Homo sapiens: one gene and its partner. The protein of the gene in region 1 purifies or fractionates together with the protein of each later gene. This does not show direct contact. Each region holds a gene or a part of one and is shown on either strand. Other genes may lie near its edges.

What was found.
Region 2: the proteins of ARMH4 (region 1) and BMPR2 purify together in Homo sapiens (affinity purification with mass spectrometry; one large-scale study listed by BioGRID and IntAct). This does not show direct contact.

The regions. Positions count from the first base shown.
Region 1 is NC_000014.9:58,145,521-58,149,342, forward strand, and holds part of ARMH4 (armadillo-like helical domain-containing protein 4 isoform 1 precursor), read right to left. Parts: intron 1-3,822. UniProt on the Homo sapiens protein: May modulate immune response and may play a role in inflammation. Down-modulates STAT3 signaling throught direct interaction with IL6ST, resulting in the inhibition of phosphorylation of STAT3 at 'Tyr-705'.
Region 2 is NC_000002.12:202,382,614-202,386,435, reverse strand, and holds part of BMPR2 (bone morphogenetic protein receptor type-2 precursor), read right to left. Parts: intron 1-3,822. UniProt on the Homo sapiens protein: On ligand binding, forms a receptor complex consisting of two type II and two type I transmembrane serine/threonine kinases.

The DNA of each region.
Region 1 (3,822 bases):
GAAGGGATAAATAATAAAGACTTAATACAGCCCCACTGCCTTTCCAAAACATAATTTTCCTTCCAAGTTTATTTTCATCTGTATCTTGGGTTTTAGAATTTTTGCGTGAAGGGAATTCTGCTATTGCTCCAAAAGACTTGCCTTCTGTGATTGTCAGCCACCTGCTTTCTAAATTCAAATACAACAGAAAGAGTGGGGGTGAACCGCAAGCCTTTGCTTTTCTCCCCCCTTTTCAAAGGCATTGATGAAAGCTTTTTCTATGTCTGTGTATTGAGGCCATATGTTCCCTCTCCCCACTATCGAAAGCAACAACTATACGTTAAAAGGAAAAAAGACAGCCTGTAAAAAGAATAACAGAAAACACGTCTGGAACTCAGATAAACTGATAGATGACCTTCAAATTCCAGGATTTTCTCCATCTTTCAAAGCCCAGTATAGGTTCATGTAGTCACTCCCATTTTTCTAATGTCCCACAATGGGAGTTACATGATGCTCAAGAATAAACGAGAAGACTGTTGTCAGTTCAACAATATTCCTAAACCTAAATAACCATCTGCAACCATATTTTGAAGGCTATGAGCCTTTCCTTTTTCCTCAACACTGTATCCCCTTCCTGGCAATGTGCCTGGCACAGAAGAAATGCTCAGTAAATATTGGCTGAACAAACAGATGAATGTCTATAGCCCACTTTGCTGGGAGAAGTGGAAGGAGGAGAGATTCCATTGCATATTAGAATTCTGTGTCTTAATTATCTTCAATTAACTCAATCATAAGAATGTTTAACAAACAAACAAAAAGAACATTCCTCTTCCTTTTCCCTCCCACTGCGTATTTGGATGCTGCTTTCTTTTCACTGTATCTCTCCATGCAAATTAATTCAGATAAATAAGCTCTAACCAAATTACCAACTGATGTTGGATATCAGCTTTGAATAGCTTAAAAAGCATCTCCTTCAGAGCAGGTCAGTAGCACTTTGTCTATCATTTGCTATCAAGCTATCTATCCTAATAGCTTGGCAGTCTTCTAAACAATTTACTGCATTTCTGCCACCAGTGAGCAAGATAAGCTGTTCTGTCAGGCATTATCTTTGACAATCTTACATAGCTACAGTCCAGAATCTGTTTCTTTGTCAAGTCTAGGCATATTCAAGTTTCAAAGACAAACGAAAGGCAACATAAAAAATACCAGCCTTGGCCATCTGGTTAGACTTAATCAGATTTTGTAAGCACTTGGTCAATATTTTTTCCAACTAAAATGAATACTGCTATTTCAGTATGTTACCAAAATGAAGACACAAAAGGGAAACCAATATGTTAAATCATTCTCACCAGTGATGAAGCTACTACTTCCAGTGTCAACTGAGTTTCATATATAATATTAAGGCACAATGAGCATCGCCCCAAGAGTGCTCAAGACACAGGAGGGCTGTAGAGTGTGCCAAGAAACTGGTGACAGTTCGCTTTATATTTTCCTTTTCTTATGATATACACAAAAACTACAGAGAGCTGCTATGGGGTAGGTGAAGAAAGCTACCTCATCTTGGCTTTTCATTGTCAACTGGAAGTTACTTTGATGACACTTCAAACACAACCATCTTCATCTGAACTTTGGTGGCCACCTTGAACTCTTCTCTCCTTTACATTCTAGATTCACAACCGCTGTGGATCCTCCTCTCATAATCTCTTTTGGAATTGTAACTTCTGATCACCTCATTGGATAGTTATTTTAAATGCCTCTTCATTGATAACCTTGTCTAGGCTCTCTCCTCTCCAATCTATTTTATACAATCCAGATGGTTTTTTTTTTTTTTTTTGATAGGAAGTCTCACTCTGTCTCCATGCTGGAGTGCAGTGGCGAGATCTCAGCTCACAGCAACCTCCTCCTCCCAGGTTCAAGCGATTATCCTGCCTCAGCCTCCTGAGTAGCTGGGACCACAGGCGCACGCCACCACGCCCAGCTAGTTTGTGTGTTTTTAGTAGAGACGGCATTTCACCATGTTGGCCAGGATGGTCTCAATCTCTTGACCTCATGATCCGCCCACCTCAGCCTCCCAAATTGCTTGGATTATAGGTGTGAGCCACCACACCCAGCTGGTTTATTCTTAAGAATAAAAATTGCAATAATCAATCAAAGACAGCTACCACTTAGGAGCTGCTATGTGCCAAGCGTTCTAAGTGCCCAGTGGAAATTATCTTATTTAATCCTTACAACAACCTAATGAGGTATACTGTCGTTATTCCACTTTTTAAATGAGGAAAACAACAGGCTGGTAGAGGATAAGTAACTTGCCTAAGGGATAGTGTCTGTTTTTGATCTTTTGGATTCTGTCAGAATTCAACGTCCCTACCTTTGCCAGACAACTCTCTGCTTTCCCAAAACACAGCATATAATGTCCCCAAATATGCAATTGCCAAAATCCATCTCTAATAAGGCAACCCCATACCACTGGTGCCCAGTATAAACACCATCATCAGTCACATACATAGCACTTTTATGTGCCATACTCATCTCAGGCTCCTAAGTTGGTTTTTTGTTTGTTTTATTTTCGAGATGGAGTCTCGCTCTGTCGCCCAGGCTACAGTGCAGTGGCATGATCTCGGCTCACAACCTCCACCTCCCAGGTTCAAGCAATTCTCCTGCCTCAGCCTCCCGAGTAGCTAGGATAACAGGCATGTGCCACCACACCCGGCTAATTTTTGTATTCTTAGTAGAAATGGGGTTTCACCATGTTGGCCAGGCTGGTCTCGAACTCTTGGCTTCGTGATCCACCCACCTCGGCCTCCCAAAGTGTTGGGATTACAGGCGTGAGCCACCGTGCTCAGCTCTCAGGCTCCCAAGTTTTGAGAATGACACTGTACGACCCATGGTTCCCTACCCAGGTATCCAAACCCTGGCCTCCCAGGTCACATCCCATTCTGGCCCATTCTTTCCCCACCCTTCTCCTAGCTCCTGTAGCATGAATTGTCATTTAAGTCTCAGCACCTCAAATGAGATTATGTTCTTTGCATACAAACACTAGTCTTTACCATTCCTTTGTTTGCCACATAATTAGTAATAAGGGTAGGCACAAAGAGGAGAGATTCCATAAATATTTGTTGGCATGATGTGAATATAAATAACCATTTAAGAATATGAAAAAGAACGTTTCAAGTCCTTATTTTGTACTGTAAGATTTTTTTAATGACATTTCATGGTCTAACCATGTCTACTTGTATGTTTTATTCAATACCTAGCCAATTTTGGCTACTTATTTAACTGTCACTCTAACAATAACAATAACTTATGTGTTCTCATTTCTGCTATATTTTAAGGTTTCAGAGTTTATTACACACACACACACACACACACACACACACACACGCAACAGACCAACAGTTACAGGTAACAAGTCTCACAGCGTCAAGTCAACATGCTTGCCAAATACCATCTCACCTTTTGAAATACAATTAGTGATTCTCTGATGAGGGGGATAGTGTCTTAATAATCTTTGTGTCTTAATAATCTTTCCATTTTGTGTCTTAACAATCTTTCCACTTTGTCCTTTTCATGACCATTCCTCAATGATTAATTTATCATTGTCTTACTTTTTCTTTTTTTAAATCCTTAAGGCTGTTACTGCCAACACTATTTTATTGCCAATACTATTGTATTTACTTAAAGCTGAGCTTATAAAGACTCTCACTCTATTAACCCAGCTGTGGCAAATGGCATTAAGGTACCACGTTTCTGATTCACTGTGCTACTGACAATCATCACTGGTCTGTTATATTGGCTTTAGGATCTAGGCTGCAGCTATACTTCACCATAAATTAAATAGCTGAA
Region 2 (3,822 bases), on another chromosome or scaffold:
TATCTCTAATTTGGGGCCTGAACAACTGGAAGGATAGAACTGACATTTGCTGAATAGGCTAAGACATAGGAGGAACAGGTCTGGTGAAGCAGCTTCAGAAGTTCAGTTTTGGACAGGTTAAGTTTGTGATGAATATCAGACATCCAAGTAGATACGACAGATACACAGTTGGCTACATGCAACAGAATTTCAAGGAAAGAAGTCTGAGATAGAAATAAATTTGAAACTTGTACGCCTTTAGATGCTATTTAAAGCCATAAAACTGGATGAGATCACCAAGAGGGTGGGTGCAGACAGAGAAAAGGTCTAAAGACTGAATCCTGAAACACAACATTTAGCCATCAGGGACATAAGGAGGAACTATCAAAGTTGCTGGTGAGGTAGGAGAAAAATCAAGAGAGAATAGTATCTTAAAAGCCAAATGAAGAAAGTACTTGAAGGATGAAAAAAAAGGATTAAATTGGCTCATGCTACAGATAGGTCAAAACAAGAACTTGGAAATAAATCAAACAACAAGCAGGACATACGCACAGAAGTATTAAATATGGCATTGTTTATTAGAGAAGAAAATCGGAAACAACCTAAACATCTCCCAATATGAATTAAGTAAATAACAAATACACTCAATGGAATATCACACAATTATGAAAAAATGATAGTTATTAAGATCACATATACATGACTATATTATTCTATGTAAAAAAAACAGATATAATTAATAGATATTATAAAATCACAACCATATAAAAATACATGCTTTTTTTTTTTTTTTTGCCAGGCGTGGTGGCTCACGCCTGTAATCCCAGCACTTTGGGAGGCTGAGGCGGGCAGATCACGAGGTCAGGAGTTCGAGACCAGCCTGGCCAACACAGTGAAACTCCGTGTCTACTAAAAATACAAAAACTAGCCGGACATGGTGGCGCACACCTGTAGTCCCAGCTACTCGGGCGGCTGAGGCAGGAGAATCGCTTGAACCCAGGAGGTGGAGGTTGTCGTGAGCCGAGATCACGCCACTGTACTCCCACCTGGGCAACAAAGCGAGACTCCGTCTCAAAAAAAAAAAAAAAAAAAAAAGCATCTTTTTTTTAATTAGAAGAAAACATACCAAAACAAAAAGTGTTAGGGTTGTGTGAAGATTAATATTTTTTCTCTTAATTTTTCAAATGAAAACAAAAAAAAAAGCTTGCCCTAAAAGGTTAGCCTGGTGTGTCTACTACAATTACATAGATTTGCTCACAGACTATTCTTATTTACAAAAGCAAAGACTGAACACAGATTAATAATAATAGAAAGTCTTAACTATTTCCTCATCTAAATGAAACAAAAAACTGAAGAATTTGGATTACTGGCCAAATATTTATACATCCCTTCACACTTATCATTAACACATTTTGTTCTAAATTTTCCTATTTTGCACTAAACTTACTGGGGCAGAATGAAAGTACATGATCATGTACATTTTTGACACCAATTATAAGGGCAAACTACTGTCTTGAAGGAGAAAGGGGAAGTGAGATCTGGTTTTAAGAAACTGAAATTTCTTGGCCAGGTGCGGTGGCTCACGTCTGTAATCCCAGCACTCTGGGAGGCTGAGGCAGGCAGATTACCTGAGGTCGGGAGTTCGAGACCAGCCTGACCAGCATGGAGAAACCCCGTCTCTACTACAAATACAAAATTAGCTGGGTGTGGTAGTGCATGCCTGTAATCCCAGCTACTCAGGAGGCTGAGGCACAAGAATCACTTGTACCCGGGAGGTGAAGGTTGCAGTGAGCAGAGATCTTGCCATTGAACTCCAGCCTGGGCAACAAGAGCAAAACTCCGTCGAAAGAAAGAAAGAAAGAAAGAAAAGAAAGAAAAGAAAGAAAAAGAAAGAAAGAAAGAAAGAAAGAAAGAAAGAAAGAAAGAGAAAGAAAGAAAGAAAGAAACTGAAATTTCTCAACCTCCATTTGCATCTAACCTTCCAGAAAGAGATGTGGATCAAATACCTAACTGTCCCAAATACCTAACTCCATCTAAAATTCTTAGGCCAATGCCTCTGGCACAATACTTTATCATGTCTCATAATTTTTCCACCAAGTCCACCGTCGACACATTTAAGACGTGAATGATTGCACACATTTTGCACTATATCTTGATAATTTGGGTAATGTATTTTAAACGTTACTGATGCACAAGGCAGGGTTAAGGTACAGTGTTGGGCATTGTGATTCTAGGCATGCATATAATCTTTCATATCAGTGTTTTTTTGTTTTGTTTTGTTTTTTGAGATGGAGTTTCACTCTTTTGCCAAGGCTGGAGTAAAGTGGCACAATCTTGGCTCACTGCAACCTCTGCCTACTGGGTTCAAGTGATTCTCCTGCCTCAGCCTCCCAAGTAGCTGGGATTATAGGCGCCCGCCACCACGCCCGGGTAATTTTTGTATTTTTAGTAGAGATGGGGTTTCACCATGTTGGCCAGGCTGGTCTCAAACTCCTAACGTCAGTTGATCCACCAGCCTCGGCCTCCCAAAGTGCTAGGATTACAGGTATGAGCCACCAGGCCCAGCCAATATTAGTGCTTTTGAAAATAGTAATTTTTTTTTTTTTGAGATGGAGTCTCGCCCTGTCACCCAGGCTGGAGTGCAGTGGTACGATCTCGGCTCACTGCAACCTCCGCCTCCCAGGTTCAAGTGATTCTCCTACCTCAGCTTCCTGAGTAGCTAGGATTACAGGCATGCACCACCACGCGTGGCTAATTTTGTTTTTTTCTTTTTTTTTTTTTTTTGACAGAGTTTCGCTCTTGTTGCCCAGGCTGGAGTGCAAAGGCACAACCTCGGCTCACCACAACCTCCGCTTCCCAGGTTCAAGCGATGCCTCAGCCTCCCGAGTAGCTGGGATTACAGGCATGTGCCACCACACCCGGCTAATTTTGTATTTTTAGTAGAGACAGGGTTTCACCACGTTGGCCGGGTTGGTCTCGAACTCCTGACTTCAGGTGATCAGCCCACCTTGGCCTCCCAAAGTGCTGGGATTACAAGCGTGAGCCATGGCAACTGGCCTAATTTTGTATTTTAGTAGAGACGGGGTTTCACCACGTTAGTCAGGCTGGTCTCAAACTCCTGACCTCAGGTTATCAGCCCGCCTTGGCTTCCCAAAGTGCTGGGATTATAGGTGTGAGCCACAGCTCCCAGCCAAATTTTTGTATTTTTTGTACAGCAGGGCTGGTCTCGAAATCCTGACCTCAAGTGATCCGCCTGCCTTGGCCTCCCCAAGTGCCAGGATTACAGAGTAAGCCACTTCGCCCAGGCCACACTGCAAATTTTTAAAAGGAAAAGATTTTGGGTAATTGCTTAATGCACAAATTAAGAAATGTTTGTTCCTAATGTTTACCAGATTAAGCAATAAAAGATATAGATTAAGTAGTAATTACCACAAAAAGTAGAAATAAAGTTATAGAACTTGAGAGTTAGAAAGAATCTTAGATCCAGTAGTTCTCAAAGGTACCTAAAATTTACTGGCTGATGAGGGCATCAAAGGCAGATTCCCAGGCTCGTTGTCCAGAGATTTGGATTCAGTAGGTCTAGTGGGGTACCCATGAATCTGTATTTCAAAATGATCAAGTACAACCCCATATTATTACAAGTAAGAAAACTATGTTAAGTAACCTATTTGCCCGGAATCATATAGAATCTAGGTCTCATTAACTCCCAACAGTGGTCTTCCCACTATACCTCTTAAACTACATACTTTATAGTTGAAGGAACTAGGACAAAGAAAAAGTTATTGGTGTGTTATTTGAGTCAATAAACAACCCTAGAATATTCCTGGTTGAAATTCCTATTTA